Regions from separate parts of the Homo sapiens genome. Here region 1 is linked to region 2. Evidence: fine-mapped expression QTL. A gene starts in region 2. The other region holds a variant in brackets. All regions are shown on one strand. Distances are from middle to middle. Region 1 has its middle 5.6 kb from the start of APPL1. Region 2 holds the start of ASB14 (ankyrin repeat and SOCS box containing 14).

Evidence for each region. PIP is the estimated chance that this variant, and not a neighbour inherited with it, causes the effect.
Region 1: its variant is the best candidate, but not a certain one, in a credible set for the expression of ASB14 in skeletal muscle (GTEx, PIP 0.63).

Annotation. Positions count from the first base shown.
Region 1 is chr3:57,219,936-57,224,334 of GRCh38, reverse strand. It overlaps a transcript of HESX1 not described here. Among named protein-coding and RNA genes, the nearest start is that of APPL1, 5.6 kb to the left of the region's middle. The variant G/A (reference allele first, on the strand shown) is at 2,432.
Region 2 is chr3:57,290,842-57,295,164 of GRCh38, reverse strand. ASB14 (ankyrin repeat and SOCS box containing 14) reads left to right here and starts at 2,480. Exons shown (of 11, transcript NM_001142733.3): 1 at 2,480-2,532; 2 at 3,061-3,253. The coding sequence starts at 3,132. It overlaps DNAH12 (dynein axonemal heavy chain 12), which reads left to right. Exons shown (of 74, transcript NM_001366028.2): 74 at 1,194-1,465. The coding sequence ends at 1,384. LOC124909384 (a long non-coding RNA gene) reads right to left here and starts at 2,374. Exons shown (of 2, transcript XR_007095923.1): 1 at 1,773-2,374.

The DNA of each region.
Region 1 (4,399 bases), 71 kb after region 2:
GACACCATCTCTACAAAAAAAAATTAAATTAAATTAAAATTTTAAAAAATTGGCCTGGTGCAGTGGCTCATGCCTGTAATCCCAGCACTTCGGGAGGCCGAGGCGGGTGGATCACCTGAGGTCAAGAGTTCAAGACCAGGCTGGGCAACATAGTGAAACCCCGTCTCTGCAAAAATTAGCTGGATGTGGTGGCAGGTTCCTATTATCCCAGCTACTCGGGAGGCTGAGGCAGGAGAATCGCTTGAACTTGGGAGGCGGAGGTTGCAGTGAGCCGAAATCACACCACTGCACTCCAACCTGGGTGACAAAGCGAGACTCAGTCTAAATTAAAACAAAAATTAACAAAAAATAAAGAGTCAAGCAAACATTTAGAAAAGGAATCCTAGATTCCAGCTAAGGATGGTGAGGACATGATTTCCAGGCTAACGAGCTGGAAACCACCTACTCACAAATATTCTCTAAAAGACTCCATCAATCTAAAATTCTGGGAAATTCATACTCCTTTTAAAGAGTGTAATGTATAATGCAAAAAATTCTGGTTGTTACCTAGTAAATCACTCCTTAATAGGACTAACTTTAACAGATAATTCATTATTTTCTTAATACCAGCTGAGATAAAGCAGATTCAGGAAAGAGCAGATTTCAAGAAAATTGATAATTTGGGAACTTCAGTCATTTAATCTATTTTAAAACATTAGAGCCAGTAGCAGAGTAGGGGGAAGCTTTGGACAATTGGAGGGTAAAACAAAAAGTTCTGAGGAATGGGTTGCAAAAAGAGGTGGGAGGGCACTAAGGACCAACTGGTTGGTTCTTCATTGTGCCACTGCAAACTAGCTTCTGCCTTTGACCTTGACCTTGATGTCACTTTTACTCATTGCCACAGCATCCTTAGAATGTGGGACAATTCTGCAGCTTCAACTTTCTTGATGGTAAAAAGAAAAAAAAAAACTTCTAGGAAAATTGTATATGCTTTTGTTTATCTATGGTTGCCTTGATTCCTTTTTAGAAGAACACATTAATTAATTTGTCTGAGCAGGCCAAGAACTTTAACACAAAATAGCATCATAGCCCTTCTGTGGAGAGGTAGATGAGAACATGGTTATGAGCTAATAAGCTTGGGCTGTGATTTAAATTCTGGCTCCACTGTTTAGTAGCTCTGTGACTTAAGTAAGGTTATTTAACTTCTCTGTTTCTCCATTCTGCCATCTGAAAAATGGAGCTTAATACTAGAGAACTTACATTAATAGTATTGTTAAGATGATTAATGAGCTTTTAGAGTAGCTCCTAGCGCAATAAGCATTCAGTAAAAATTATCTTTTTCATTATCAACTATTAAATATTAAAATATTTTAATACATTTAAGGAAGCTTTTTTGTCTCTATCATATTTTTTTAAAAACTAATATTTTTTAAATCAGAAGATTGGGCTCATTACCTTAGAGAATCCTGATGCTATTTTAAATAACATTAGTTACTCTTGCTAATGTTTTATCACTTTGATTTGGGGGCTTTTGAGGCCAAAACCAAAATTTCAAAATCAATAAATATGTACTTTGAAATTCTGGAGGAAAAGTGTACCAAAACAATTACCAAAATAGCCAAGATTATTGCCATTTTGAGGTTTTTAGGAGTTTTTGTTTTGTTTTTTGTTTTGTTTTTTGTTTGGCGGGTGGTGAGTGGGTAGAGGTGCCCCAAAGTTAAAAGATTTTCATGACACTTACCCCACATGGGAATTCTGGAAGGAACAGTCAAATCATTGGGGAAAAAATTGCTCATAGGCTGGGGGCGGTGGCTCACAGCTGTAATCCCAAAATTTTGGGAGGCTGAGGTGGGAGGATCGCTTGAGCCCAGGAATTTGAGACTAACCTGTGCAACATAGTGAGACCGTGTCTCTACAAAAAATTTAAAAATTAGCCAGGTGTGGTGGCACATGCCTGTAGTCCCAGTTACTCGGGAGGCTGAGGTGGGAGGATTGCTTAAGCCCAGGAGGTCAAGGCTGCAGTGAGCCGTGATCTTGCCGCTGTACTCCAGCCTGGTGATAGCGAGACCCTGTCTCAAAAAAATGCTTTTAGGGAAATTAATATGTCCTGTGCCTGTTTAATCATTGAAAACATTTTAATATTTTCAGAGCCATAGAGGGCAGTGAAAAACAGAGTAGCAGAATTGATTATACCAGTACTATTTATCCAATGGCTAATACAAATAAGACTCTCAGGGATAATTCACACGTGCTTCCAAGAACACTAGATGGCACCAATTATTTAGGATTCAGACTACCTCAGGGAACAGCTGTCTTCATTCAACAAATATTTATTAAATAATGAACAAAACAAAAATATCTGTCATTGTGGAGCTACAGGTTAGTAGATATGGTGGGGAGAAAGACAATAAAAAATAAACATAGTAAGTAGTATTAGAAGTATAGCATATTG[G/A]CCGGGAGCAGTGGCTCATGCCTATAATCCCAGCACTTTGGGAGGCCAAGGCGGGTGGATCACGAGATCAGGAGTTCAAGACCAGCCTTGACAATATGGCGAAACCCCATCTCTACTAAAAATACAAAAATTAGCTGGGCATGGTGGCACGTGACTGTAGTCCCAGCTGCTCGGGAGGCTGAGGCAGGAGAATCGCTTGAACCCGGGAGGCAGAGTTTGCAGTGAGCCGAGATTGTGCCACTGCACTCCAGCCTGGGTGACAGAGCACGACTCCATCTCAAAATAAATAAATAGATATATAAGAAGTATAGCATATTACAGCTACAAGGCTGTAGTGAGCTATGATTGCACCCCTGTACTCCAGCCTGGGCAAACCTTATCTTATATAGTAAAATAAAGAATAGTATGTTAGAATGTCATAAGTGCTATAGAAAATAGAGTAGGGAAGGCCAGGCACAGCAGCTCATGCTTGTAATCCCAGCACTTTGGGAGGCTGAGGTGGGAGGATGGCTTGAGCCCAGGAGTTCAAGACCAGCCTGAGCAACATGACAAGAACCCATCTTAACAAAAAAAAAGTTTTTAATTGGCTGGGTATGGTGGTGTGTACCTATGGTCCTAGCTACTTGGGAGGCTGAGGTGGGAGGATCGCTTGAGCTGGAGAGTTGGAGGCTGCATTGAGCCATGGAGTACAGGCTGCACTCCAGCATGGGTGACAGAGCAAGGCCTTGTCTCAAAAAAAAAAAAAAATTAGGGAAAACAGAGCCGGGGCAGCTGCAATTTTAAACAGGTTCTTCAGAATGGGCTTCATTGAGAAAGTAACACCTGAACAAAAACTTGGAGTGGCTGGAATGAGCCATGGGGATATCTAGGGAGCAAACATTCCAGAAGGAGAGACCATCAGGGCAGAAGCCGTCACCCCTAATGTAAGAGTGGCCTGGCCTGGTTCAAGAATTGCGCAGAGCCCAAGATGACAGGAGAAGAGCAAGCCAGGGGAAAGCCTGAGGTGTAAAGAAAGGGAGAGGAGGCCACGTCAGGCAAAGCCTTGTGCCCACTATGAGGACTTTGGCTCTTACCCTAATTTTGGACAAAAACACCTTTAATAAAGGCAGCAATTTGAAACAAGTGTTGGGGAAACTGGAGAATTGGTGATATACTATATAATAAATTGTGGGTGGCCAGGCATGGTGGCTCATGCCTGTAATCCCAGCACTTTGGGAGGCCAAGGTGGGTGGATCATTTGAGGTCAGGAGTTCAAGACTAGCCTGGCCAATATGATGAAACCCTGTCTCCACTAAAAATACAAAAATTAGATGGGCAGTGGTGGTGCACGCCTGTAATCCCAGCTACTTGGGAGGCTGAAGCAGGAGAATCACTTGAGCCTGGGGGGCAGAGGTTGCGGTGAGCCAAGATCGCACCGCTGCACTCCACCCTGGGCGACAGAGTGAGAATCTGTCTCAGAAAAATAAATAAATAAATAAACAAATGGCAAATTAACTTTGTCTTAAGTAAACTCAATCATTTACAAGATCCTTTGATTTAAAGGGAAAAGACTACATTAGTGATTTAGCTAAATCACATTCACTATAAACAGGACAAAAAGCAATGTGTTAAGACAATGCTTTAAAAAAGTCATAAAAAATGACTTCATGCTCTGCTACAGGGCTACAGTAACCAAAACAGCATGGTATTGGTACAAAAATAGGTACATAGACCAATGGAACAGAGTAGAGAGCGCAGAAATAAGGCTGCACACCTGCAACCATCTGATCTTCAACAAAGCTGACAAAAACGAGCAATAGGGAAAGGACTCCCTGTTTAATAAATGGTGCTGGACTATCTGGCAAGCCATATGTCGAAGATTGAAACTGGACCCTTTTTTACGCCATATACAAAAATCAATTAAAGATGGATTGAAGACTTAAATGTAAAACCCAAAATTACAAAAACCCTGGAAGAAAACCTAGGCAA
Region 2 (4,323 bases):
CGCTAGTGACTAGCATTTTCTGGCTATAAGAAACTGCTAGGCCTAGGAGCCAGCCAGGTCCCCCAAGGCATAGATGTTGCTAGCCACATGGGGTGGGGGCCAATTTTGCCCCATTTAGGAAACTGCTTGCTCCTCCCCTGCTTCTGCCATCATCATCTTTCTACAAGTCTGGAAAAAAAAGTCTCATTCTTTTGTTTTCTCTTCCCTAACTTTTTAATTCTTAAATAACAACAATTTCTTAAAATATTTACTGATCACCCAGAATCACCATCCAACCTATCAAATATTCTCATTACGAATGTGGTTCAGTTATAACTATGAGAAACGTGACCTTAGTTTGGAAAGACTCTTAATATCTTATATCTGGCTTTTTGGGGATTGTATATAGTTTCTTTTCATGAATTGGTAAGAGTTGACATGTTTTTCTTATTATTTACCTGCTAAAAACAAATAGAAACGTCAGCTTCTTCTAATGTGTGGGTTTCTTGGATTAGAGCTCTAAGCAGTTGTATTTCTTCTTTTGAGTCTCCCCCACTACCTATACTGTATTTTATTCCTTCTTCCCTCCCTTCTCATTCTCCCCTCCCAAATCCTCTTGAGTTTTCTCATGCCTGCTAAGCGGTCAGAACTTTAAAGTCTATTCCTGTCTTCCACACCTAGAATCATGCACCATACGAAATACTTGCCTTGGGCTGGGCGCAGTGGCTCACGCCTGTAATCCCAGCACTTTGGGAGGCTGAGGCGGGCAGATCACGAGGTCAGGGGTTCAAGACCAGCCTGGCCAACATAGTGAAACCCCGTCTCTACTAAAAATACAAAAATTAGCAAGGCATGGTGGCAGGCACCTGTAGTCCCACCTACTCAGGAGGCTGAGACAAGAGAATCGCTTGAACCTGGGAGGCAGAGGTTGCAGTGAGCCGAGATTGTGCCACTGTACTCCAGCCTAGGTGACAGAGTGAGACTCAGTCTCCAAAAAAAAAAAAAAAAAGAAAAGAAAAGAAATACTTGCCTTGTTTCACAACCGTAATACTATATGTACTGTAAAAAAATATATATGCTGTAAAACCTTCATATATCACAATTATGATCTTAGATTTAGTTCTGGCCATTTTATTACAAGATAAATAGTTCTTTTCGTACCAATGGCTGTTTTTCCCTTTATCAAGTGAATATATTTCTTTTTTTTTTTCAAGCTCAAAAATCTCGGATTATAAAGTCGGATGCCTATGTCTGTCCCCTCTACAAGACAAGTGAACGTAAAGGAACTCTTTCCACTACGGGACATTCTACTAACTTTGTCATTGCAATGTTGTTAAAAACAGACCAACCTACTCGGCACTGGATCAAGCGCGGGGTTGCTTTGCTTTGTCAGTTGGATGACTAAATTGGACAAATTTATAAAACATCCAAAAGTTTAAAAAAAAAAAAACCTGTCCTACTTAAAATATATACATTATAAAACCAAGTGTTTTGGTGTTATTCTTTTAAATGATCTTTGCAAACACTCATTGCATTGTTCTCCTTTCTGAGGAGAACTTTTTGAAGTTTGATTGTATGTGAAAAATAGATTTGGGGGTTAAACGGTAACATTTAACAAATATCAGGAATTATCTCCTTCACAAATGTTAAGTCATTCCTTCAGCTTCAGTATAGTTTACTTTCCACTCTCCTACCTAAAGTAATTATACATAAATATTTCAAATACATAAATTAAGAAATTATAAATATGGAAAATATTAAAAGTTACCCAACTATACCTCTTTATTTCTTACCTCTAAGACATCGGTTCCATTTCTCACTGCATCCTTGTGACTAGGAAAGGAAACTCAAAGCTGCGAAGTTGGCCTGCAAAGGCAGTAGGATGGCTTGAGGGCAGTCCGAACTTCTACACCTGCAGTGACAGTGTGCTTCTCGGCATTTGCTTCATATTTAATTTGAAATGTCAAGTGGTCCCTTTGCTTTTTTTAGTGTATATTAACAATTTAAAAATATTTCAACAAAACAGAATTTTGATCAAAATTTTATCTTGTGTAGAGTGAATTCTTCCCTTAGGATTCCAAGGACACTGAAGGCCACAGTTCTGTAACCCAAGGAAAATGTAGTCACAGCTACCTAGTGAATCTAGTACATTGGGACAGTCACTTTGGATAATTGGGTCAGAGCAAAATGTTTGGGTTCTCTTAAGTGAAAAATTGATTGTGGTTTGCAGTGGCTATGTGCATGAATTCTCTTTGCATGGCCAACCCCCTGCAAAAGCATTTTATTCCAGGAATAAAATATTTAATCCTTTAAATTTGATGAATGTAGCACTGAAGAAAAGAGATCATGTTTCCAAAAAGAGCTAAACCACATGTAAAAAACAAGGAGAATGTGCCAAACTGTCTTATGATGAAGTATTTATAGTAAAGCTATTAATGGAATGGTCACTACAGGGGAGAGGAGAGCCTAAATATAAATGAAAATTCTGAGGCTTACATGTGTTAGTCCTTAACAGTGAAAACTTCACTGCTGTCCTAGAGGATAAAACAAAAGGTAAAAAGTCTTTGAAATGTGACCAAATGTATTCTATGCTAAAACTGACATTTTTCTTTTAAAACCATTTAGATATTGCCTAGTAAGATACATTTGTTTTTACTACTGCTGTATCCATGTTGTAATTATGAGAATACATTTGTTCCTATAACATGTTTATTTTTAATGTATATTAAGTAAAATATTATTTTCAGCATCACACTGTGTGTAGGAAAGATATTATTTTGGATGAGTGCTACAATCACTGTGAAAGACTCACAGCCAAGTTGAACAGATCAGAGTGTTGTCAGTGTTAGAGTGGCACTAACCGAAGTCTTATTTGAAAGGTGGTTTTTCCTGAATAAGCTTTAAGTCAATGGCTACTCATGGAAACTTCTAATTTTTGTTGAATCTGTGGCAGTCCACAAAACTTTTTTAAGTTTATAGAAATTTTTTAGTGAATATTTTGTTTCCTAAATTTTGTATATTTTTCATTGTTAATCCTACCAATTTTCTAGATTTCTGAATTTCATTTGTAATTTTAAGCAGTTGATCTCTTCACAACTGGAAAAATACTTTTAATTCACTCTGACTTTAAAGTAAACCTGTCCACGTTTCACATGGATAATTACACCAGCGATGAAGACATAGATGAAGACTTTGACACCCAGCTCATCATTCAACAGAGTTTGCAGGATATTTATAAGCCAGGAACAGCACAACATGCACCTAAGGATGAGAGGTAATGGTTTTCTCATCGGCAATATAGTATTAAGTGTTGTATTCAACAGCTGACACTTGTCATTAGCTTAACTCTAGTGTTGTGACAAAAACAGGAGGGTCAGAATCCAAGGAGCTGTCAATTAAATATCTGTAAGATATTATGCCTAACTAGACAGGAATAATCTGGAAATAATTCAGAATTTAATTAGGCAATAAAAATATCTGAAGGAGGTTAGCAGCAAATCTGGGTGAGGTGATACAGACTGGAAATCAGAAGAAAGAAAGGAGGATATGAAGGGCTAGAGAAAAACTAATACATCTTGTCTTTGGGAATTGAAGAAATGCATAAATCCAACCGGGACACATAGAAAGTTAGTTATCTTCAACCTTAGTAGGGTAGGTGGGGATGGGGTCCAGTCTTTGATCTACTCAAATCAAAAGGAGGAATTACATAAACTTGAACAAGGCTTCTGAAAGTGTAGATTCAGAGTTTTGTTGGACAACACTGAAAAAGGACCAGTGGGACCCTGTGTGGGGTGTAAGAAGAATCGTCCTGGATATGGCACACCTGCTCACACGCTCGCTGGCCAATCAGCAACCTTGGTCTCCTGAGGCAGTAACCATCATTTTTTCAGGGGTGATAACCCAGTTTACTTGGGATGGTAATCTCTATTTGCCTGCTGGATGTAAAACTAGAAAAATGTCTTTTAACCCCAAGAGATTTCATAACTAAATAGAGACAATGAAGTACATCAAACCTATATAGTATTTTTAAAATGTAACAAACCATGGAGTGATCACTATGTGTCATGTTATTTTAAGCACTTCATAAATACTAACTTTTAAATTCTAATTCTCATTACCTCTCTATGAGGTAGGTCCTATTATTATCCCTACTTAGAGAGGAGGAAAGTGAGGCACAGAAAAGTTAAGTGGCTTACCCAAGGTCACAGAACTAGTAAGTGAAGAGCAAGGCAGTCTGATTCTAAAGTCTGTGCTCTTAGCCACACACTATTCCTATACTTTTGTGTTCAATTTAGGATTAGTTTTTAAAATAATCTTTAAATATTTAAAGTTTTGTAAAGAAAT